7 linked regions of the Homo sapiens genome follow. The protein of the gene in region 5 interacts with the protein of the main gene of each other region in a pairwise test. Each region holds a gene or a part of one and is shown on either strand. Other genes may lie near its edges.

The links.
Region 1: the proteins of GDAP1 (region 5) and FAM114A1 interact in binary tests that used the Homo sapiens proteins (3 or more experiments, as listed by UniProt).
Region 2: the proteins of GDAP1 (region 5) and MSH5 interact in binary tests that used the Homo sapiens proteins (3 or more experiments, as listed by UniProt).
Region 3: the proteins of GDAP1 (region 5) and DCBLD2 interact in binary tests that used the Homo sapiens proteins (3 or more experiments, as listed by UniProt).
Region 4: the proteins of GDAP1 (region 5) and STARD4 interact in binary tests that used the Homo sapiens proteins (3 or more experiments, as listed by UniProt).
Region 6: the proteins of GDAP1 (region 5) and TMEM218 interact in binary tests that used the Homo sapiens proteins (3 or more experiments, as listed by UniProt).
Region 7: the proteins of GDAP1 (region 5) and APOD interact in binary tests that used the Homo sapiens proteins (3 or more experiments, as listed by UniProt).

Annotation. Positions count from the first base shown.
Region 1 is NC_000004.12:38,943,523-38,946,239, reverse strand, and holds the end of FAM114A1 (protein NOXP20), read right to left. Parts: coding exon 2,683-2,717; 3' UTR 501-2,682; downstream 1-500. UniProt on the Homo sapiens protein: May play a role in neuronal cell development.
Region 2 is NC_000006.12:31,746,505-31,750,004, forward strand, and holds part of MSH5 (mutS protein homolog 5), read left to right. Parts: intron 1-882; coding exon 883-928; intron 929-3,500.
Region 3 is NC_000003.12:98,818,196-98,821,695, reverse strand, and holds part of DCBLD2 (discoidin, CUB and LCCL domain-containing protein 2 precursor), read left to right. Parts: intron 1-1,407; coding exon 1,408-1,448; intron 1,449-2,278; coding exon 2,279-2,494; intron 2,495-3,500.
Region 4 is NC_000005.10:111,495,536-111,499,035, reverse strand, and holds the end of STARD4 (stAR-related lipid transfer protein 4), read left to right. Parts: 3' UTR 1-3,003; downstream 3,004-3,500. UniProt on the Homo sapiens protein: Involved in the intracellular transport of cholesterol. Binds cholesterol or other sterols.
Region 5 is NC_000008.11:74,360,403-74,363,889, forward strand, and holds part of GDAP1 (ganglioside-induced differentiation-associated protein 1), read left to right. Parts: intron 1-1,481; coding exon 1,482-1,576; intron 1,577-1,861; coding exon of another isoform or gene 1,862-1,972; exon of another isoform or gene 1,973-2,417; intron 2,418-2,536; coding exon 2,537-2,651; intron 2,652-3,487. UniProt on the Homo sapiens protein: Regulates the mitochondrial network by promoting mitochondrial fission.
Region 6 is NC_000011.10:125,094,627-125,098,126, reverse strand, and holds part of TMEM218 (transmembrane protein 218), read left to right. Parts: intron 1-386; coding exon 387-521; 3' UTR 522-3,500. UniProt on the Homo sapiens protein: May be involved in ciliary biogenesis or function.
Region 7 is NC_000003.12:195,573,941-195,577,440, reverse strand, and holds part of APOD (apolipoprotein D precursor), read left to right. Parts: intron 1-3,469; coding exon 3,470-3,500. UniProt on the Homo sapiens protein: APOD occurs in the macromolecular complex with lecithin-cholesterol acyltransferase. It is probably involved in the transport and binding of bilin. Appears to be able to transport a variety of ligands in a number of different contexts.

The sequences.
Region 1 (2,717 bases), on a different chromosome or scaffold from region 5:
GACGGGATCTCCCTCTGCCGCCCAGACTGGAGTGCAGTGGTGTATCTTGGCTCACTGCAACCTCTGCCAGCCAGGCTCAAACGATTCTCCTGCCTCAGCCTCCCGAGTAGCTGGGACTACAGGCGCGACCCACCACATCCGGCTAATTTTTTTGTATTTTTAGTGGAGACAGGGTTTTACCATGTCTGCCAGGCTGCTCTCGAACTCCTGACCTCAGGTAATCCGCCCACCTCAGCCTCCCAAAGTGCTGGGATTACAGGTGTGAGCCACTGAGCCCTGCCACTTGTTTCTCTTTTACATTTCCACTTAATATCTAAACCCATCTGATGCAAAAAACAAAACAACAAAAAACAACAAAAAACTGATGTGAAGAAATTGTAAATCTATATCATTTCCTCTGCCCTACACATAAAAAGTCTAAAATTGATGAAGAGGTAAATGCAACATTTTCATCAGTTAATCATTCTCTAGACTTAATAAAAACATTTCTGGCAATCAGAAAAGGGGAAAAATCTTTAATTGATTTCTCAGGTAATTTTTTTCCAGATTGTACATAAAGTGTTCTTATGTTCTCTATTTGGATGTTTCAGGAGACATACAAATGAAATACAGTACATAGACAAATGAAATGCTAATAAGAAGTAGGATGATATTAAAATATCCTTACTTTGCCTGTATGGAACAAAGGCAGTCTACTCCATCGGGGAATCAAAGCAAATGTGAATAAGAGGTTTCCACCTTGCAAAACTGTGAGCTTCATTTGCCCTGGAGAGAACTACTAGGCAAGGCTTCACATGACAGTACCTGTAGGGATGTCCATGGGGCTGTGAAGCAGGTGTATTGTATCGAACATGCAGCTGCAATGAAGGCGTGGAGCTCAGGAGAAGCAGCCACTGACAATGCCCCTCCTGGCCGCAGGGTCTTCTGTGCAGCCTCCCATGGATCAATATACCAGTTAGTTAAAACACACATCAGTATTTTCTGTCCTTTAGCAACGATGATGATATTTGCCACCAGCGAGTGTGATCTGTGAGGCGATTTTAAAATGCAGTCCTGGGATTCTACTGTATTGAAACACCTTTGATTTTCTATTTGAATACTTCCAAGCTTTGTAATTATGCCACCATGTGCTCGTGATCGTAAGAAATTAATTTTAAACTAAATATTCTTCAGTATCCCTTTTCATATATATTTTCACCTCATATACATAGTTTGGGATAAAATAGTGTAAAGAGTATAGGAAAATGCAACAAATTAAAGGGTAGGACATTAAATAAAACACCAATTTACCTTGTTCTTCAAAGTTTTTAAGGTTCAAAAATTTATTGGTATTTTAAGCCAGTGGTCCCCAACCTTTCTGGTACCAGGGACCGGTTTCATGGAAGACAATTTTTTCACGGACTCGGGGTAGCGGGATGGGGGTGGGGGATGGTTTCGGCACGAAGCTATTCAACCTCAGATCATGAGGCATTAGATTCATCAGGCATTAGATTCTCATAAGGAGTGCACAACCTAGATCCCTCGCATGTGCAGTTCACAACAGGGTTCGCACTCCCATGAGACTCTAATGCTGCTGCTGACCTGACGGGAGGCAGAGCTCAGGCAGTAATGCAAGCTCTGGGGAGCAGCTGTAAATACAGATGAAGCTGTGCTCACTCACCCACCGCTCACCCCCTGCTGTGTGGCCTGGTTCCTAACCAGTGCCACGGACTGGTACTGGTCTGTGGCCTGGGGGTGGGGACCCCTGTTTTAAGCAGTTTAAGAATTATTCTTTTTCAGAATATCTACCTCTACTGGGATAAGATCACGTTTCTTTACTGTGAGCACACAGTAGGTGCTCAATAAATGCTTGTTGCAAGAATGAATGACCGGCCGGGCGCGGTGGCTCAAGCCTGTAATCCCAGCACTTTGGGAGGCTGAGGCGGGCAGATCACGAGGTCAGGAGATCGAGACCATCCTGGCCAACATGGTGAAACCCTGTCTCTACTAAAAATACAAAAAAAATTGGCTGGGCGTGGTGGCACACACCTGTAGTCCCAGCTACTCAGGAGGCTGAGGCAGGAGAATCGATTGAACCCAGGAGGCGGAGGTTGCAGTGAGCCGAGATTGTGCCAACGCACTCCAGCCTGGCGACAGAGTGAGACTCTGTCTCAAAAAAAAAAAAAAAAAAAGAATGACAATATGTTCCTATTTTTTACCATAATAGGTAAAATCTATAAGTAGTGTTATTTTTGCCTGCGACATTTATGTAACAAAACAAAGTTCAGTTTTAGAATTGATTTAAAGTAATACTATAAGAATGGAACATTTAAAGGTTGAAACATAAAGGATTAAACAAAAGTCTAAGGTCTCCCCATGAGTTTCTAAATATAGCATGCTTAACCAGGAAAATGAACACGAATATTTGTAAATAAATTTCAGATGAAAGGAAATTTTCAATATAAGCTGTGTAAGTTTAAATTAACATAAAGAAAACACAATTGTTTGTAAAAACAATTATACACATTGAGAGAAATGATAACTCTCTCTAAATTTGCATTCTCAATATTGTCTGTGCAAAATTGCTTGTAGTGTCCTCAAATGGATGTCTGTGGCCAGGCGCACAGAGAACATCCCCTTAAATGGTACATATTGAGGCAAGGCGGCCAGCTGTCTCCTTTAACTAGATGGAGTCTGGCCAGGTCACGGCTGTGCTTTCAAACAACTGGTCTGGATAT
Region 2 (3,500 bases), on a different chromosome or scaffold from region 5:
TTAGGCTCACTGCAACCTCCGCCTCTTGGGTTCAAGTGATTCTTCTGCCTCATCCTACCTCAGCCTCCTGAATAGCTGGAACTACAGGCCTGCACCACCATGCCCAGCTAATTTTTTTGTATTTTTAGTAGAGATGGTGTTTCGCCATGTTGCCCAGGCTGGTCTCAAACTCCTGAGCTCAAGTGATCCTCCTGCCTTGGCCTCCCAAAGTGCTGGGATTATAGGCATGAGCCACCCTGCCCGGCCAGCTATTGAGTTTTTGTATTTTTGGAGGGGCGGGAGGGCTCTTGAGTTTTTTGTGTTTTGTTTGTTTGTTTATTTGTTTCGTTTTGTTTTGAGACGGAGTCTTGCTCTGTCACCCAGGCTGGAGTGCAGTGGCGCGATCTCCGCTCACTGCAAGCTCTGCCTCCCGGGTTCATGCCATTCTGCTTCAGCCTCCCGAGTAGCTGGGACTACAGGTGCCTGCCACCATGCCCGGCTAATTTTTTGTATTTTTAGTAGAGACTGCGTTTCACCATGTTAGCCAGGATGGTCTCGATCTCCTGACCACGTGATCCGTCTGCCTCGGCCTCCCAGAGTGCTGGGATTACAGGCGTGAGCCACCGTGCCTGGCCAGTTCTTGAGTTTTAACTAGGTCTGCTTTGTGTATTTTTCTGGCTAAGTGTCCCTGTGAGTGTCCATCCCTTCCCCCATCTCCATGTACGGTAATCCCAGCTCATATTTGTGGCCAGGCACCAGCTTTGGCTGCCTTTGTGCCCTCCCAGGCCAGCTTCCTCAACAACCAGCACCTCTGACCTGGATGCCTCAGCTTAGACACATAAACACATTCCATTCCCTGTCCCTGCCTTGTAACAAGTTCACTCCCTGCCTTATCCCTCACAGGAATCCTCAACAGATGCCACTGTAAGTGGGGAGAGAAGCTGCTCAGGTGAGTGGGTCCCACACATACTACACACTAATGCATGAATTCCATATGCACACTACATACTAAAGCCTACTAATGGCAGTATACAGATTCTCACATACACCACCCCACCTAGTAGTAGTAAAGCAACTGCCCTTTACTGAGCACTGGCTAACTGCATTTCATCCTTATAACAGCTTTGTGTAGTAGCTGATATGCATCTCATTTTTTGTTGTCAGCGCAGGTACACATATACCCATTGATGATACACAGACTTGCACACATACAAGCAGCAGGAAAAAACACAAAATGTAAGGCCGGGCACAGTGGCTCACACCTGTAATCCCAGCACTTTGGGGGGCCAAGGTGGGTGAATCACTTGAGGTCAGGAGTTTGAGACCAGCTGGCCAACATGGTAAAGCCCCATCTCTACTAAAATGCAAAAATTAGCCAAGCGTGTTGGTAGGTGCCTGTAATTCCAGCTACTCAGGAGACTAAGGCAGGAGAATCGCTTGAACCCAGGAGGTGGAGGTTGCAGTGAGCCAAGATTGTGCACTGCACTTCAGCCTGGGCAACAGAGTGAGACTCCGTCTCAAAAAAAAAAAAAAATGCTAATGTAACACATGGCTATGTTAGCATGGTTATCTTTAGTTATAGAAAACACACTTCACATTTCTGTGATGACTCTCAAATTTGTGTCTCTAGTTTTGAACTCCGTATGTGAATGTTAATTGCATATCACCACCTGCAGTTTTCACAGGCAGCTCAAACTCAGAGCATCCAAACTGATGCCCACCAGATCTGTTCCTCTTCCTGCATTCCCTTTGCTGGTTAATGGCATTGCTGGCAGTACACCTTCTCAAGCCATGAACCTTGGATTGATGCTAGAAACAAAAAACCTGTCATTCCAAAACAGAGATCTAAGCATGTCACTCCTTTTTTTTTTTTTTTTTTTTTGTGACTGAGTTTCGCTCTTGTTGCCCAGGCTGGAGTACAATGGCACGATCTCTGCTCACTGCAACCTCCACTTCCCGGGTTCAAGCAATTCTTCTGCCTCAGCCTCCCAAGTAGCTGGGATTACAGGCGCCCACCACCACACCTGGCTAATTTTTGTATTTTCAGTAGAGGCGGGGTTTCACCATGTTGGTCAGGCTGGTCTCGAACTCCTGGTGATCCGCCCACCTCGGCCTCCCAAAGTGCTGGGATTACAGGCATGAGTCACTGCGCCTGGCCGTCACTCCACTTTTTAAATAGCCTAAGTAGAAAGAAAATAACATAAACCTTAGGAGGTTTTCCCATTACCTTCAGGATTAAGATTAGCATCTTAAGCAGTATAATGATGTTCAGGGTCCATCACGTTTACCCCAGTTTTAATTTCCAGACTCACCTTCCAAAGCCCCTTCTAAGTCCTTTCCTACTGGATCTACCTTATATTCTAGTCATTTAGGGCCACTTGCCATTATGGAAACATGTCATGCCTGTGTTTATGCTGCTCCTTCTGGAAAGTCTTTTTTTTTTTTTTTTTGAGACGGAGTCTCCCTCTGTCACCCAGGCTGGAGTGCAGTGGCGCGGTCTTTGCTCACTGCAACCTCCACCTCCCAGGTTCAAGCAATTCTCCTGCCTCAGCCTCCGGAGTAGCTGGGATTACAGGGACCCACCACCATGCCTGGCTAATTTTTGTATTTTTAGTAGAGATGGGATTTCACCATGTTGGCCACGCTGGTCTTGAACTGCTGACCTCGTGATCTGCCCACCTCGGCCTCCCAAAGTGCTGGGATTACAGGCATAAGCCACTGTGCCCGGCCTGGAAAGTCTTTTCCTTGTTCTGTACCTATCAAAATCTTACATCCAGGTCAGGCGCGGTGGCTCACGCCTGTAGTCTCAGCATTTTGGGAGGCTGAGGTGGGTGGATGATTTGAGGTCAGGAGTTCAAGACCAGCCTGGCCAACTTGGTGAAACTTCACGTCTACCGAAAATACAAAAATTAGCCCAGCATCATGGCGCATGCCTCTAGTACCAGCTACTCAGGAGGCTGAGGCAGGAGAATTGCTTGAACTCGGGAGGTAGAGGTTGAAGTGAGCCCAGATTGCCCCACTGCACTCCAGCCTGGGCAACAGAGTGAGATTCTGTCTTAAAAAAAAAAAAAAGTGCATCCTCTTCAAGGTGCAATCCAACTGTTACCCTTTGGCTTTTACAGGTACCTGTAAGGAGTTGATGTGCACCTTCTTTGTGCTCACATAGTGCTTGTTTATGTTTTTCTAGTTGCACTGTCACATCATGTTAGAATTAGCAGTCAGTGAATCTGCTTGCCTCCATAGCTATGAACTCTATCTAGTAGCTATACCTGTTACCTCAGTGTCTGACACATGGTCTTGTACATAGTAGCACTCAATGTGTGAACACAACGCAAATGTAAACGCACTGGTGACATCATCTCTAAACAGAGTGGAAACCTTTGCTAGCCTCAGGTGCACAATCCTTCCCCTACCTCACCTCCCGCTGCAATATGTATCTTGTAGGAGTTAATTTAGGATAATCTCTGAGGTCATCTCCAGGTAATCAGCATCTCCAGGAATCGGCAGGGTAATTTAATTAC
Region 3 (3,500 bases), on a different chromosome or scaffold from region 5:
TCATTTGGAAGAGTAATGTGTTTCTTCTGTCTTTTCTAAGTGTTAAAAAAAAGTCTACATAAGAGTCTAGAAGTTTGTTGCCAAATCCTTATTTATTTTACAGATTGAAAGGCTTAACTACTGTGTTCCTTATAGCACATGGGGATTCAAGATAATTGAAATACTTTAAATATAAATTTAAGTTTGACATAAAGTGTTACATCATAAGCATTATTGTGAATCTTCCTTTCATTCTAAGAGAATATTTTGAAGATGTATTTTCATGGTAACTATAGTGTTCTACTGTTTTATAAAACGTAGGGTAGGCATCAAAAGCAAGAGAAATTGAAACATTAAATAGAAATGCAGTGTTAGCAATCTGTTTTTATAAATCTTGTCTCTTAGATCTGCTCAGTCTTTCAGACAACACTAAGCCTAATTGAAACCAGCTTTTCTTCAGAGGTCCTAGGCCAATTTTCATTCAGAAGACACAAGCATCATCCATATCCAGATTGGTATACAACAGGATTCAGCAGATTTGTTCTGTAAAGATCCAGCTAATAAATATTTTAGGCTTTACAGGCCACATGTCGCTGCAGCTTATTCTTTTTTTGTTTTATTTATAGCTCTTTATTCTTAACTCACGGCCCATACAAAACAGGCCATGCATGGGCAGTCATTTGCCCATCCCTGGTATAGATTCAACTACCTTCCCTTCTTTTTTTTTTTTTTTTTCTAGATTATTTTATGCAGACCCTTTCATTCCTTTACCATGTTATACCTTTAGAAAGATTTAGTGTTTGTGAATTCTCTCTTTCATACTTTAAAAAAGAAAACAGGGATAAATTGCATCCTCTTGTAATGGTTTGTATGTTGGACTAAAGGCAGGAGTGTACACTGAAACTTCTTCCATGAGATGTTGATTTCTCCTAAAAAAAAAAAAAAAAAGAAAAAGAAATCTATTAGTACCCAACTTTTCTCATGTTTATCCGAAAAAACTTGAGCCTCATTCTCTGAGAATTAGACCTTTTAGTGTATTTTCATCGAAAGCATTTGCCACAGAAAAGTGTTAAGAATCCATTTATTTCATGAAATAAAGTAGTGAGAGATTGACAGTAAACAATGAGTAAATACATATGAAAAAGAAGTACATATTAAAGATTACATAGAGAACTTTTGCACAATCACATATGAAACTGGGTGCTAGATACTTGTAGAGAAAGCTGTTTATGCTGATTTCAGAAGTTGTCCTGCTTAGAAATGAGACTTTTTTCCTAGGAACAATATTAGTTGTCTAATTTTTAGCCACACAGTCTTCTTGGTTCTTTTATTGGGTGGGGGGAACCAAATCAAAAGAAAATGTTTCACTAAATATGGGGCATCATGTGTTATGTGAGTATCACCAAAAAAAACCCTTCTCTCTTTCAGGGGACACTTATCTACAAGTCTTTTTACATTTAAGACAAGTGGTAAGCCTTTTATGGACTTTATAATTTTTTATTTATATAATATTTTTTGAACACTGTTAGGCACTGTGTCAGTTGCTGATTTATTGTACTTTCTCACGTAGTTGTCTTAATAACACTATGAGGTAAGATAGTTATCTAATAATATAATGAATAGAGCAAATTGAAAGTTTTATATTTATAGAGAAATGGTCATGTAAGCAAGGAAGGTTCCTTAAGAAAGATGACTTTTGAACTTGTCTGAAGAAGTAATCAATTCGTTCAACAGAAAATACTTACTGAGTGCCTTCTCTTTATGTGCCAGGCATTGCTCTGGTTCGAGTGATAGAGTAAAGTGAACAAACTCCTGCCTTCCTGGAGCTTACATTCTAGTAGTGAGAGATTGATGATAAGCAATGAATAAATTTCTGTTTATAATGTACTGTTTACAATATGATAAAAGATGTAGGAAAATAAGGAGGACTGGATTGAAGTTGGGAAGGGCCTTCCTCCCAGGGAAGACCTCAGGGAGAATGCAACATAGGCCAAAAACCTGAAGGAGGTAAAGGAGTGAGTTACTCAGTTATTTGGGAAGAGTGTCCCAGGGAGAAGATAATGTATCTCCATTAAACTAACAGTCATGCTTATAAATGAGCATGTTTGTAGGTTTCCTAATGATACACAAAGACATATGCCCAAGAAACACTTGCCTAGTTTTGAAATTTCTCTGTTACAGTGTATTATTAGTGTAGTGTATGTTAATTAAAGATGGAATAGAAAGTTTTCAGTGAGCAGGTCTACATGCATTTTGAAATTATACCTGGAAACCAAATTTAGTCTTTTCTTTGTTTCAGGATGTTATGGAACACTGGGGATGGAGTCTGGTGTGATCGCGGATCCTCAAATAACAGCATCATCTGTGCTGGAGTGGACTGACCACACAGGGCAAGAGAACAGTTGGAAACCCAAAAAAGCCAGGCTGAAAAAACCTGGACCGCCTTGGGCTGCTTTTGCCACTGATGAATACCAGTGGTTACAAATAGATTTGAATAAGGAAAAGAAAATAACAGGTTAAGAGACAAAAATTTTCTAAAGCAATTTGTAACACTTATTTTATTTGAAAAACTAGTAACATCTAAGATTTTCAGAGAAAATTAAGGCATTAAAATTGTAATTATATGGTTTTATATTTTCTTCACTGATGTTAATATTACTAGAGACACATTTTATGAAACATGGCAGAGAAAAGGAGTTATTTGTGTTGGTCAGGGTTCTCTAAAAGGACACAACTGATAGGACAGATGTATATATAAAGGGGAGTTTATTAAGGTGTATCGACTCACATGATCACAAAGTGAAGTCCCACAGTAGGCCATCTGCAAGCTGAGGAGCAAGGAAGCCATTCCGAGTCCCAAAACCTCAAAAGTAGGGAAGCCAACAGTGCAGCTTTTAGTCTATGGTCAAAGGTCCAGAAGTCCCAAAGCTAAGAACTTGGAGTCTGATGTTCAAGGGCAGGAAGCATCCAGCATGGGAGAAAGATGTAGGCTGGGAGACTTAAGCCAGTTTAGTCTTTTCACATTTTCTTCTGCCTGTTTTTATTCTGGCCGTGCTGATGCAGATTAAATGGTGCCGACCCAGATTGAGGGTGGGTCTGCGTGTCCTAGTCCACTGACTCAAATGTTAATCTCCTCTAGCAACACCCTCACAGACACACCTGGGAACAATACTTTTCATCCTTCAATCAAGTTGACACTCAGTATTAACCATCACAGTATTTAATTCGTAATAGCTTTTTGTTTCCATTGTAATGAGACTCTTTTTTTAAGGTAGTGTTTCAGTAAAGTGGTCTTGAGACATCTAAAATAACGGTCTCCTACAGTCATTAAGAGAAATTTATGTTAAAGGAGTCCATTTTAAATGATGAGATCATTAATTTTCCACATGTGGAGAGTATAAATTTAATTTAGGGGAACTTAGCAAATGGTCGGAATAATTGGTTGGGATTGGTTTAATTTTGTTAAAATATTTATTTTGTTTTGGTACTGTAAATAATACCAATAATCATCTTTAATCTGT
Region 4 (3,500 bases), on a different chromosome or scaffold from region 5:
TCCTGTGTCTACTGTTTTGTTGTTGTTAATATGGGTAAAGTGAGCCCTGAAATACATGCTAAACAAGACATGAAATGCAGAAAGGTACATAGTGTTTCAAGTGCATGGTAGTTTGATCTGTGTTTTACTTTATTGTGTTTTCTTGAGTGTAAAGAAAGAATAAATCAAAGTTCTTCATACCCATTTTGACAAAGTGGAACAGTGGAGCTGTTTTTTGCTTTTGTTTTTATTTATTTTTTGCCACTGGTGATGATAGATTTCAAAAAACAAAAGGTGGCAGCAGCACAATGTTCATGGTGAATTATCTCATAGTATCTAGATTGATCAAGATCTGACAGAAGGAATGCACAAAGGATTCTATATTCTTAATGATTTATTAATTACCAGGATCCTTTTCTAAATTGAATGTACTTTTGAATTACTAGGTTTCTTCTTTTTTTTTGTTCTGCAATAGTGAAAGAAAACTCAGTAGTTTAGTTTCAGTTTCTCATGGAAATTGGTAAATGTTAGTTTTGACTTCATCTATTTTTTATTTGTTTTTATTAGCGTAGAGTAGGAAGTCTCATATTCTACTGTTCTATCTAGGATGGTGAAATTCCAAAGGTGCCTAACTTGAGTAAGGGATTTGTGACAAGATAGTACACATTACTATAAGGGCTATTATTTCCTGAACTGGATGTCCCTAAAAGCAAATAAACTGCCCACTATCTCTACTCTAGTGCTCTCTTTGTCCTTATCAACATATACCTCCAATAAGTAATTACATAATTCACCGTTAAACATGGACCCACTCTAGGTAAAATTACCCTCATGGAAACATTTTCACTGTGAGAATGATGAATTTAAAAATTATGTTTGAATCACCTAAAATGTATGTGCAGCTTCTAGATGGCCCCTTAGATCTGCTGGGCTCTAGCTGTGTACTTTAAAAAAACAAAAACAGCTTTATTGATATATAATTTACATATTATGTAATTTACCCACTTTTAAGTATCTAATTCAGTGATGTTTTAATACATATGTAGAACTATGCAGCCATCAGCACAATCTGGATTTAGAACGTTTCCATCATTCCAAAAGATTCCTTTTGTCTTTTTTGCAGACTCATACCTAACACAAATCTAAAGTTTATCACTGTTGCCAGGATAATTACAGCAGGTTATGTTTGGTTTCATTTTTAAGAGTGGAGGTGTTCATGATTCTAAGCTCAGGAATCTTGTGATCATGTATTAAATATGTTATCTCATACTATAATGATAAAAAAGCTTAATGATGTGGGTTGGGATGGATATTAACATAAATAATTGAGTCCGCTGCTTCTATAGCAATGCTGTAGGATAGAACAATAATGTAAGTGATATATGTAATTAAAAAATTCTAGAAGCCACATTAAAAAATAAAAATAAACAGCTGAAGTTAATTTTAATATTTTATTTAACTCAATACATCCAAAATGTTATCATTTTAACATGTAATTGATGTAAAGATTTATTCTGATAGTTTGTACTATTTCTTGTACTAATTTTTTGAAATCTGGTATGCATTTTACAAATTTGGGCAAGCCACATTTTAAGTGCTCATTAGCCACATGAGGCCAGTGGATACTGTATTGAATAGCACAGTCCTATAGCATATTTATTAATTTGTCTTGTAGTAAGATGAAATAGACAATAATACGGAATAATATCTTAAATGGAAATCTTTGTTAGTCTCTAGAGCCTTCATTGCTTGATAAATAGGACATCTAAACTTTAGATATAAATCAGTTGTCAATGAGATAAAATTATTGCCAGCAAATATTTTCCTTCAAAGATAAGTAACTTTTGATATGGCAGTTGGTGAAATGAAAGAATATAATCTGCCTTCTTGTTAAATGGTTGACTATTCTGTAGCTTGTAGGTAGTACGTATTAGAAACTTGTGTATGTGGGAAATATTTGGCATAATACTGTTTTCAGTATATAGTAGCTATTTTTTAAGGAAATTAGTTTCATACAAGAAAAAGATTATTATAAAAGTGATACTTTTGCATGAAATATTAGTTTGTGTTGATAACTCTTAGTTAACCCTTAAAGTTTAAAACAGTACTCAAAAAAAAATAATGAGAATCTAGTATTCTGTAGTTAACTAATCTATAAGATAAATTGCTAAAGTACTAGGGAGCTTGTAAATCTTAAAAATCTTTTTATTTCAGTGTTCATTCAGGTTGGATATATTTGAAATTGTAGATTTCTATCTGTACAACATCTCCTAGTTAATAGAATTTTTTTCCTTCCCCTCCCTTCTCTCTCCTCCTCCTTTTCTAACCAAAGGGCATTTTATCAACAATCATGCTGAATTCAATTAATATCTCAAGCTAAAAAACTATGTAATTGAGGTTGTATCTGGAGAAGATGGGAAAACATTGTATAATTTAAGCCCTTAATTGTCTGTTGAGCTTTTAGGGCTGAGTAATTGCCTTTCATACAAATAAAAGCTTTAACTCTTTTCTCAAGAGTGTACCACCGTCCTTAGAATCAGGTGTTTTAAATCCAGTTTCTTTTAATTAAATGGGACTGTAGTGATCCCTACCCTGTAGAGAAATCAACAGAACTAGAGAAGCTAAGGGCTTGATCAGGTTTCCCCTAGAACCTGTGTTGCCTGCCTGCTGTATCTTCCATGTCTTTCTTATTCAACTTCTAGAAGTAGAGAAGGTTGGGACTTGAGTGTAGAAGAAACATCAGAATAATTTCAAAAAACAGGAAGTTGGAACTATAATTTTTAAATTATTGTATTGTTTTTACGGATTTTACATGTATAGTTAAATATTAAAATTCATCTCTTGCAGTTCAATAAAAGCTATAGTATAGATTTTATTTTTAAGAAGTTTATATAATTCTTTTGTGAACCAATATGTAAAACTAGAATATTTATTAAACTAATAATATGTATTAGTATCAATAAAATATGTATTTATTTTTAAATTGGTATGAAACAAAATAAAAATTTGTAGACACTCTTAAAATTGGTCATTGATATTATCTTTGTAATTTAACATTAAGTACTATTTAGTTTCATATGCCTGAATTTAAAGTATGTAATTTAACTTCCTGAATTCTTACAAAAGGAAAATATAAACCTGGAAAGTCAAATTAACAACACACATGCTGATCTCTCCTGCCAGTGTCTCATATAATATTAGCTGTTATACAATACTGCTGAAACTTTATTTGCTATTATATATTCAGAACAAATAATATATTGTGCCTTTGTAAATTATGGACAGGATTTATTGTACACATGTTGAAATAATTGTGTTACCTTGATTAGGAATTATGATATTTTGTTTGGAATTGAAAAAAACTAAAAGTGATTACAAGGACACCCACGATCTATGTTATAAGAAGGCAGTTAGGGATGCTGTGGTAAGTATGTAATAGAAAATATGACTGTGAAGCAGGGAGTTACTTTCCTCATTTAATAAAACATCTGGTACTATGGTTTGAATATTTGTGTTCCCCT
Region 5 (3,487 bases):
ATTGGGAATAGGGTTGTTGAGTTTGCTTCATGGATGTGCATGTTATGGATCGATCCATGAACCAGTCGGATTAATCTGTGCTTCACTTGCTCAATTGGACATTTATTGTCTATAGGACCTGATTTATCAGCTCTTGGCTTTGAGGGCCAATCTTGGGTAAAACTCAGAAGAGTGGATTATGGAAGAGTAAAGAATATAACATGTTCTCATGAACAGATGGACTAGGAATCTGAAAACCTGGGATCTGCCTAGGATTATGGGCAGTTGAGTTCATGTTACTGGTCCTTAATTGTTGTTTTCGTTATTTGAGGAAACTGGACTAGAGGGTGTCTAACTATTACTCTGTCTCTATGTTCAGTGATAGTAGATTTATTGGGATTGAGTTGTGACATCCAGCTTTCTGCCTTCCTCCTGTCATGAGAATAGTCAGTGCATGATCTGTGGAGCAGGAGGTGTGCTTTATAGCAGAGATAATTGGAGATAAGAAGGGAAAGGATTGTGGCAGTGGTCACACTTTGGGAATGTTGATCAGAAACACTCAAACTCAGATCTTCTAAATCCAGAAACCATGTGTTCCCCATTATGTGATACTCACCTTTATTATTCTTATTATTCTTTTTTTCCTTTTTGATACCCCTCCTTTTCCTCTCCTCTCCCTTCCCTTTTCATCTCTTCCCTTTTCTCCCTTCTCTTCCTTTTTCTCCACTGCCCTCTCTTCCTGCTTCTCTTTCCTCTTATTCCTCCTCCTCTTCATAAATACCCTTTATAGTATTTGAAACAAGAGTTTTGACTATAATTCTATGACCTATAGTTAATATTTTTTAAAAATAAGGCTTTTTCCTCCCTTCATATAGGAGTTCATTATAGAAAGCTTGAAAGGTAGAGGAAGGCGGAGCAGCAAGCCTGCACTGAGCACTGTAAAGTGCTGGGCCTTGCTCTAAGTGCTTCCCATGAAGCTTCTCATTTAGTCTTCATGGCAGATATTCTTTGTTTTTTTCTTTTCTTTTTTTTTTTGGATGGAGTCTCGCTCTGTTTCCATGCTGGCGTGCAGTGGCATCATCTCGGCTCACTGCAACCTCTGCTTCCTGAGTTCAAGTGATTCTCCTGCCTCAGCCTCCCGAGTAGCTGGGATGACAGGCATGCGCCACCACGCCCAGACAATTTTTGTATTTTTAGTAGAGACGGGGTTTCACCACGTTGGCCAAGATGGTCTCGATCTCTTGACCTCCTGATCCTCCCGCCTCGGCCTCCCAAAGTGCTGGGATTACAGGTGTGAGCCACCGCGCCCAGCCGGCAGATACTCTTATGGTTCCATTTGAAAGGTGAGGAAACTGAGGCATAGACAGGGTAAGCCCAAGGCAGAGAAGCAGGGCATGAGCCCCAGAGCTCATGCTCTTGTCATTGAGTTTCTCTGCTTCTCCTTGTTACTGGTGTAGAAGGGAGAAAATAATTTTCTGTTTCCAAAATGTTTTTATTATCAGGCCAAATTGGAAACACAGAGTCTGAGCTGAAGAAACTTGCTGAAGAAAACCCAGATTTACAAGAAGCATACATTGCAAAACAGAAACGACTTAAAGTAAGCCAATCAGCTGTCCTCAGTTGACATACACTGCACGGAGTAAATGTTCTACTTTTTGTAAAGTACCACTATTTCTAGAATATCTTCTTTTAAATATTGCAGTTCACCAGTACACATGTTACCTTTGGCTTATGTTCTCCTTTTAGAAAGAATTTTTTATTAGACTTGATATTGAAACTTGATGACAAGTGCTTAACAAGCAGATATTGAGCATGCTGGTTGCCAAAAAAGTTATGAAATGCAAAGGAAGTTCATAACATATTCTAGAATCTGTCATTTCAGGTATTCCACCACTGGAAGTCCTCGCTAGACCTACATCCCTCCATGTGTCGCCCTGACTTGCTTTGCCCCCTGAGGAGTGTGCTTTATGGTCAGCCTTTCTCCTTCTGTTGATTCCTTCCCCGGGCCCAGCAACTATTGCAAGCTTCTCTCATATTAAAAGTGTAGAAAACAGCAGCACTCCCAACCCTCCCCAACTTCCCACCTTCCTTTATCCTATCGTAGCTAAACGAGCTCCTCAGAAGAAACACCTGCACTCACAGTCACTTGACTGACTCTCCACTCGCCGTTTAACTCCTTCACTCGGACTTCTTACTCATCCCTGACCCTTCAGCTACTCTTTCAATTACGGCTGCTAGAATTCTTTTCCTGAGTTGGGCTTGGCAGATGGCTCTTCGTGTCCCTCCCATTCTTTGCCTTCTGTGGTCATCTGGCCTCATAGGAGCTGCCAGTGAGTGGTGGGTCTGCTCCTGGGTCATTTTCACAGCTGGGATATTTCCCTTCAACTTAGCTCTCTCTCTCTCTTTTTTTTTTTTTTTTTTTTGCTGAGTTTTTCTATTTCTTCTCGTTGTCTAAAATAGGCTGAACTCTGTAAGAGTTTGTATCTGCTTTACCTAGATTTATTTTTTTTAAAGGTGCAAATAATATGTTTGGTTTCTTTTTTTGGTGGTTAATTAGTCAAAGCTGCTTGATCATGACAATGTCAAGTATTTGAAGAAAATTCTTGATGAGTTGGAGAAAGTCTTGGATCAGGTTGAAACTGAATTGCAAAGAAGAAATGAAGAAACCCCAGGTAGGTTCTCATTTATATTCTTTCTCTCTTTTCAACATCAGTATTATTCATGGGAACATTCTTAGGTCTCACCAAAAACGTTCTGTAATCTGCTTTTCATTGTTGTTATTCACAGGCAGTTTTAATTATGATAGCAATAATGATATTGCACCCAGAAAAACCCAGGTGTCTAATTGTAACTCAATCTGCATCTACGTGAAGGATTTTTCTGCATAATTTAAATTATGCTTGGGAGATTTTTACCTGTTTTACAAATTTGTAATTACAGTAGTTAGTTTGGTTGAATAACTTGAGTAATTGCTTGAATATTCCCTCTAGTTTTTTCCTTAGGCAGGGAGACAGCCTCCAATCTAAAGTGTAATAAGGACCAGCACGTGGGCATCTGTAGACTGGCTGGTAAGCATGCCAGTGAACTGGCTTCAGGGTTAAGCCATAGGTGTATACACATGGGCCATTTATGCTACTCCGACTAGAGTTGAAGACTATGTTACCTGTCACAAAAGCTCTTCTGCTTTAAATGACTAAGAGCAGTAGCCACTGAGTGATGTTTCAGACTCAGCTTTATGGATTTTTCTAAAGCAGAACTGTTTTTATAAACCAGAAGGAAGTTTCTTTTAACTAGCTTGGAGGCTCCCAACCCCTTAGTGTCCTTTACAAAGTGATAAGCTCAAGTGGCTGCAATCTTACATAGGGACCTGGATGGCTGACAGACGTCAAGCAAGTCTCCTTTGGCCTAGGATACGTTTGCATGGACTTTTTTTTTAAAGCATGAAATTATTCTCTGAGTGTGGCTGTCAAGAAAATAAATATATAATGTCCTTCATCTTTTGCTATAC
Region 6 (3,500 bases), on a different chromosome or scaffold from region 5:
TGTATGTTTAAAATTCTCCGTAATAAAATGTATTTTAGCAACAACAAAAATGAGCCTTTCTAGGACCATGCAAAAGCTTCTCATTAACTCTTTCAGGTAACAGATTTCAGAATATAAAAGAATTCATCCAGGGACTTCAAAGTGTTTACCAACATCCTAAATTGAGCCATTTGTTCCCTGTCCCTCATTAATCCCTTCTTGTGTCTCCTGCTCAGGGAGTTGAGGAAAAGATTCTTTTTTCTCATGTACAGAGGAGACTCAGGGCAGGATGTTACTGGAAGTTATACACATGAACTAACTCTTGGCCCACTCATCATGGAGTTCAGGTTAACCCAGCCAGGGTGTCTAACTGGTAGTAATTTCATTTTGATGTTTTCTTTCTCCAGATTGTGGATGACTTTTTCATTGGCCGCTATGTCCTGCTGGCTTTCCTTAGTGCCATCTTCCTTGGAGGCCTCTTCTTGGTTTTAATCCATTATGTTCTGGAGCCGATCTATGCCAAACCACTGCACTCCTACTGACCACTCTTCAGGAAAACGAAAACCTGTTCTCTCCTTCATTGTGATGACATTGATGAGCAGGAAGGCACTATTCAGAGCCTTGTTTTGACAGCCCTCATGCCTTAAGGTTAGAGGAGTATCTGTCCATCACTAAGACAAATCTCTGGAGTCCTGGCTTCCAGAAACAGGATTGCCAAATTGTCCCTGTGGGGCTAGATTCTTACCAGCTTAAGAAGGATATTGCTATCTTCTTAGTACCCGTACCTTAGGATTTCCAACTGTTTTGAAAGGGAAATAGTAACAGTGATCTGCTTAGAGTGGATTTTCACTCAAGTCCTTAGTAAGTGGATTTTGGGGAAAAAAGCACCTGGGCTTCTGGTTCTTTTTGATAATATATAAAATTATTCATTATGAGGTTGCAGTTGTTTGCAAAGGAGAGGCACTCAAATTTGAAAGGTTATTTTAATGTGATAATTTGGAAGACTTACTCAGATGTTGGTCATTGACCACTCTGTGCATATATTTCTGCAGAGCTCTGTGAAGGCAATGAGTGTCACTTCCCTCTGCTCTAATAAAGCAATAAATAATAGCTAAAGGGCTGACTTTCACTTCGAACTCTTGGCCACGGCTTTTTAATCAAGTTCTTTAGGTTTCCTTGGGATTAGAGGAAAGGTATGGAAATATTGTTTTTTGTTTTTTGTCTTGCCATGTATCTGTAGGTTTTTTTCTTCCATGATGTGGTGGGCTGTGTGTGCCTTATTTAATTACCATGAGTCCATTTTGGGGTGTCTTCACTTTTCATCTTTGTAGCCCTTTCTCCAAAGCTAGTGAGGAAGGTATATTCTCAACATCAGATATAACTCTATACCTGTCTGATCTCCCAGACCAAATGAAATTTGCATTAAATGGAGGGGCCCTGGTCAGGTTCCACTTTGGAAGTCTGATCCTGACTCCCTAGAGCCATTTGAAAAAGAATCTTCTGGCTTAAAATTAAGAACCAAGAAAACAAGTTGGAAAGAGATCACTGATGGAGTATGTGCTCTATGCCAATAGCACACTAATTCCTTTGAGGTTTAATTTATTTAATTTTTACAACGGTCTCATTTTTATCATCCCCACTTTAAAGTAGAAAAAATGGAAGCTTAAAGAGATCAGCTGACTTGCCCAACCTTCACCTAACAGCCAGTGTGCAAACCCAGGTGTGGTAGGCCCCAGGGCTTGTCTCAGAGAGAAAACACACTAGGGTTTGTGGAACTCTGATTGAGAGCTTCAGGTAGGTTAAGGCCACACTGTTCCTTCACTTTCTCTCCTCAATTCTGTTTTCAGGGTAGAGAAGTTACCCAGTCCTGCCACCCCACAGGCAACTAAGCTCTAAATTCCAAGAAGAGAGAACAGGTAACCACTGAGAGTCATGGGCTGGTGAGGGCCAGGTATAGTTATCCCTACATTGAACCATTTCCTTTATCTTACTTAGTTTGGAAAAACTTTGCAGATAAGGCTTTGTACAGAAAACTTCAAAGGAAATAGTTTCCTAATCTGGCCTAGGGCACACAGGTAAGAAAAGAAGAAACATCCTCTAAGCAGATTGAGGGAGAGAAAAAAGAATGCATAAGTCTTGAGGGAATTGAGACAAGCTGGGGGCCTCATGCTATTGTGAGTCTCCCTGCAGCCCAAGTGGAAGCTTGGCTCCTAACAAGCACAAGCTGCCAATTGTTACCTTCTTCTGAGAGCCTTGCTAAAAAAGTAACTCTGGGAAAACTCTTATAGGTTCCTGACCATGAATCCATCTTTTTTATTCCCCCCAAAAGTTATTCAACTATTAGATCAATGGATAATAACTATGAGGTTTTGGGTGACTATTTAGATGGAGGAAAGTGTATTAAGGTTGGAAACTAAATTCTATCCTTAATACTACTGTTTTCTAATTTTTGTTTTTTTGCCTGATGTAAATGAAAGGCATATATGTTAAAGATTGGCTTTAGGAAAAAAAAAAAAATACCCTGTGCAAAGTTTATTTCAGCTTGACTTGACCTACAGTCTACAGACCTGGAGTCTATAATTACCAGCTGTGGTGAAATGAATGATAGATTTCTTTCTACCTGCATACTCAATGCAGTTATGCAAAAAAAGCCCCGCAGGGTTGGGATAAGACGTAGAAGGCTGAGAGGGCTCAAAATGGATTTCACTGAGAGTTTGGCATGGGATAACCCTATAGTCAATGTCTGTTATGGTACCCTGTATGCTCATGGCCTTCTTGGAGACAGGGCTCAGAGGTCATTCCTTAAATACAGACAGAAGTCATCTTAGTGTTCAGAACCATTCTGTGATCAGTGGCCTTAGAACATGTTCCCTCTACTGTTCCCTACCCAGAGGGGATCCTGTGGCAGACTGGTGATCCCCACTGTTTAGAAGGTGGAGAGGGAGAGTAAATCTGGGTTTCTATATAAGAAAATAGGTTATTTCGTGGCGTCTTAAAATTGTATCCTGACAAAAGCTGAATTAGGAGGATACCACCCTATCCCCACAATGGAGATCACAATGGGTAATTTGTTAAGTTCCTTAAATTTTTCACTGATAAAAATGGAAGTAAAGCTACCATTCTTTGTGTACAATGTAAATTTAATGTAAAACTGCATCAGAATTACCATACCAATGTCCAGGGACTAGGGAGTACATAGCCATTCATTCTCGAATCCTGCCATTCATTCAGCATATATTGTGTGCCCGTAGGGTGTAAAGCACTAGTCCTGGTGGAGTAAGCCCATGGAAGAACTAGGCTGTAAGGTGTCTAGACTGTCTTCCTCACTGCTTCCTGGAAGGAGGGCATCCAATTTATTTTTAAATGTTTTTATTCTAACATAAAGCAATCCATTTTTTGTTCTGTTATTTAACAGAAACTTTAGTATCAACTCTATTTCATGGTTGTTGCAGTTGAAGTGTTTCTGGTTTATTTTTTGCTCAATGTGTAAAGAAACCTGCTGTGATTATTTTACAGATGAG
Region 7 (3,500 bases), on a different chromosome or scaffold from region 5:
ATACAGATTGCATTAAATCTGAAGATCAATTTGGGGAGTACTGCCATCTTAACAATATTAAGTCTTCTAACTTGTCAACATAGTGTATCTTTCCATTGAATTAGGTCATCTTTAATTTCTTTCAACAATACTTTGTAGTTTTCAGAGTATAAGTTTTATGTTTCTTTGGTTAAATTTATTCCCAAATATTTTATTCTTTTGATGTTATTGTAAATGGAATTTTCTTCTTTTTCTTTTCTTTTCTTTTTTTTTTTGAGACGGAGTCTCACTTTGTCACCCAGGGTGGAGTGCAGCATCACCATCTTGGCTCACTGCAACCTCCGCCTCCCGGGTTCAAGCAATTCTCCTGCCTCAGCCTCCCAAGTAGCTGGGACTACAGGTACACGCCACCACACCCAGCAAAGTTTTTTTGTATTTTAGTAAAGACGGGGTTTCACCATGTTGCCCAGGCTGGTCTCGAACTCCTGAGCTCAGGCAATCCATCCGCCTCGGCCTCCCATAGTGCTAGGATTACAGGTGTGAGCAAGCCACCGTGCCCGGCCTTTTAAATGGAATTTTCTTAATTTCATCTGCAAATTGTTCATTGCAAGTAGAGAAATATGTTTATATATGTATATATTTTTGTGTGTGTGTGACAGAGTCTTGCTCTGTCACCCAGGCTGGAGTGTAGTGGCACCATCTCAGCTCACTGCAACCTCTGCCTCCCAGGTTCAAGAGATTATCCTGCCTCAGCCTCCCGAGTAGCTGGTATTACAGTTGCGTGCCACCATGCCCGGCTAATTTTTAAATTTTTTATAGAGATGGGGCCTCGCCATGTTGGCTATGCTGGTCTTGAACTCCTGACCTCAAGTGATCCACCCGCCTCGGCCTCCCAAAGTCCTGGGATTACAGGCATGAGCCACTGCGTCTGGCTGAGAAATATATTTGATTTTTGAATATTAATCTTGTATCTTGTAACCTTGCTTAACTCATTAGATCCAATAGTTTTTGGTTTTGTCTCTGTTTTAGATTTCTTAGGATATTTTATATGTCATCTGCAAACAGATAGAGTTTTACCTCTTCTTTTCTAGGATTATTTTTCAATACTGACCAGAGATCTGAAAAGATTAAGAAGCCTTTGCAAAAATAATATGAGATCATAAGGAAGCTCTGAGTTTCCTCTTTTCTGAAAAATCATGCTTCCTTGGTTTTTACTATGGGGCACTAAACTCACTTTAACAGAAATAGAACAGATTTGAATGCACCATAGAAAATGGAGCTTCTTCCGAGAATGTCTATGAAACCAGTTAACCTCTAACCTTATTCTTTGGTACTTTAAATGAATGTTAAGTTCAGTGGCTTTAATTGAAAGCTGTGCTTTAATAAGTGAGTAGAACTTTATGGTCATGAATGTGGCATACATTTGAGCGGAAAGCCGTGGCTGAAGCAATACTCACCTGTGTGCAGCATCCTCTCTTTTCAAGTTCTGACTCTGAAGGTGAGCGCATCTCTTTTTGTTTTTAAATTTCTAGAATAGGCCAGGCGCGGTGGCTCACGCCTGTAATCCCAGCACTTTGGGAGGCCGAGGCAGGGGGATCACTAGGTCAGGAGATTGAGACCATCCTGGCCAACATGGTGAAACCCCTTCTCCAGTAAAAATACAAAAATTAGCCGGGCATGGTGGCACGTGCCTGTAATCCCAGCTACTCGGGAGGCTGAAGCAGGAGAATCACTTGCACCCGGGAGGCAGAGGTTGCAGTGAGCCCAGATTGCACTACTGCACTCCACTCTGGTGACATAGTGAGACTCCATCTCAAAAAAACAAAATTCTAATTAGTATTTTAACTAGATAAATATATTTACATTGTTCAAAATCCTAAAGGTGTAAAAGAATACACCACATAAAGTTTCCCTCCCACCTCTGTACCTCAGTTTCCCTCCCCAGTAGCAACTAGTAAAAACCATGTATTATGTAATTTTACAGATAATATATACATATACAAGCAAATACTTAATAACTGTGGTAAGCAGAAGAGTGGCTTCCAAAGGTGTCCACGCCCTAACCTTGTGAATGTTACTTTGCATGGGAAAAGGGCTTTTGCAAATGTGATCGAAGTTATGAGCCTTGAGATGGCCAGATTAGCCTTGATTATCCAGGGGAACTCAATCTAATCACATAAATCCTTAAAAGCAGAGAATCTTTCCCAGCTGTGATAAGAGAGAGAGGTTTGATGATGGCATAAGAGTCAGAGAGATGCAATGTGAGAAGGATCTGACTTCCTTTTGCTGGCTTTGAAAATAGAGGAAGCCTCAAGCCAAGGAATGTAGGCGGCCTGTAGAACTTGGAAAAGGCAAGGAAACTGATCCTCCCCTAGAGCTCCCAGAGGGAAACACAGCCAACACTTTGAGTTCAGCCCAGTGAGACCTGTCAGACTTCTGACTTACACAACTGCAAGATAATAAATCTGTGCTGTTTGAAGCTTGTGCTAATTTATTATAGCAGCAACAGAAAACCAACGTAATAAACATTTTCTCCATTTTTACACAAAAGGTGCCTTAATAGATACACTATTTTGTACCTGACTCTTTTGTCATTAAATATTAGAAATCACTGCATACCACTCTTTTGAAAGAGGAAGTAAAATTCCATTGTCTGGATATGCCATCGTTTACTCACCCAGCCCCCTACTAATGCTCACATAGGCTGTTTCCTATCTTGTATTATTACAAACGGTACTGTAATGAATAACTTTACACATACATCATTTCTTATATCAGGAGGATGCATTCCCAGAAGTGAAATTGCTGGGCCAAAGAGTATAATATGTATTTTTAGCTTTGCTAGATATTGCCAAACTGCCCTCCGCAGAGGTTGTAAACTGGTATGGTCTCCCTGCAACGCGTGCCAGGCAGCCTAGGAGGGCCTGGTTCCCTCGACCTTCCCCACACAGTGGCAGCTTCCTTTAAAGCTAACTGTATACACCTGAAGTCTGGACTGAGCGCAGGCCCCTAGAGAAAGCATGATACAGACCTTTCAAATCCCCACCACCTCTCCAAAGCCTTGATGACTAAATCCCTCCTCAGGGTCAGATGAGGAAAGTTCCGTGCGCTCTGGAGTCCTAGCTCCCCACAGCGAACACATCTGACTTTGCACAGGATTCAAAGATGACTTGTAGAATTGTGCACTGTTTCAGATGAAAGGTATTTCCCATCATCCCCTTTTTTTACAGAGTCTAGAATGTCACAGCGATTTTGGCTGAAGTGGGCCCTGAGAAGAGCCCTTTACTCAGCATTCACCCCCTGCCCGCACATCCCATCCTAGTCACAGATTCTCATTGCAATCAATCTCTTGCCCAGTTGCCACTGGGAACAATGAGGCCCATTTTGTCTGGCTTCCCCAGGACAGGGCTCTGCGTCTGCACGACAATGGGGAAGAAGTTGCAGGTCCCCAGAGAACCACAGGGTTTTGCTCTGCTTGTTGTCTCTGCAGTATCTCGGAAGATGGTACGAAATTGAGAAGA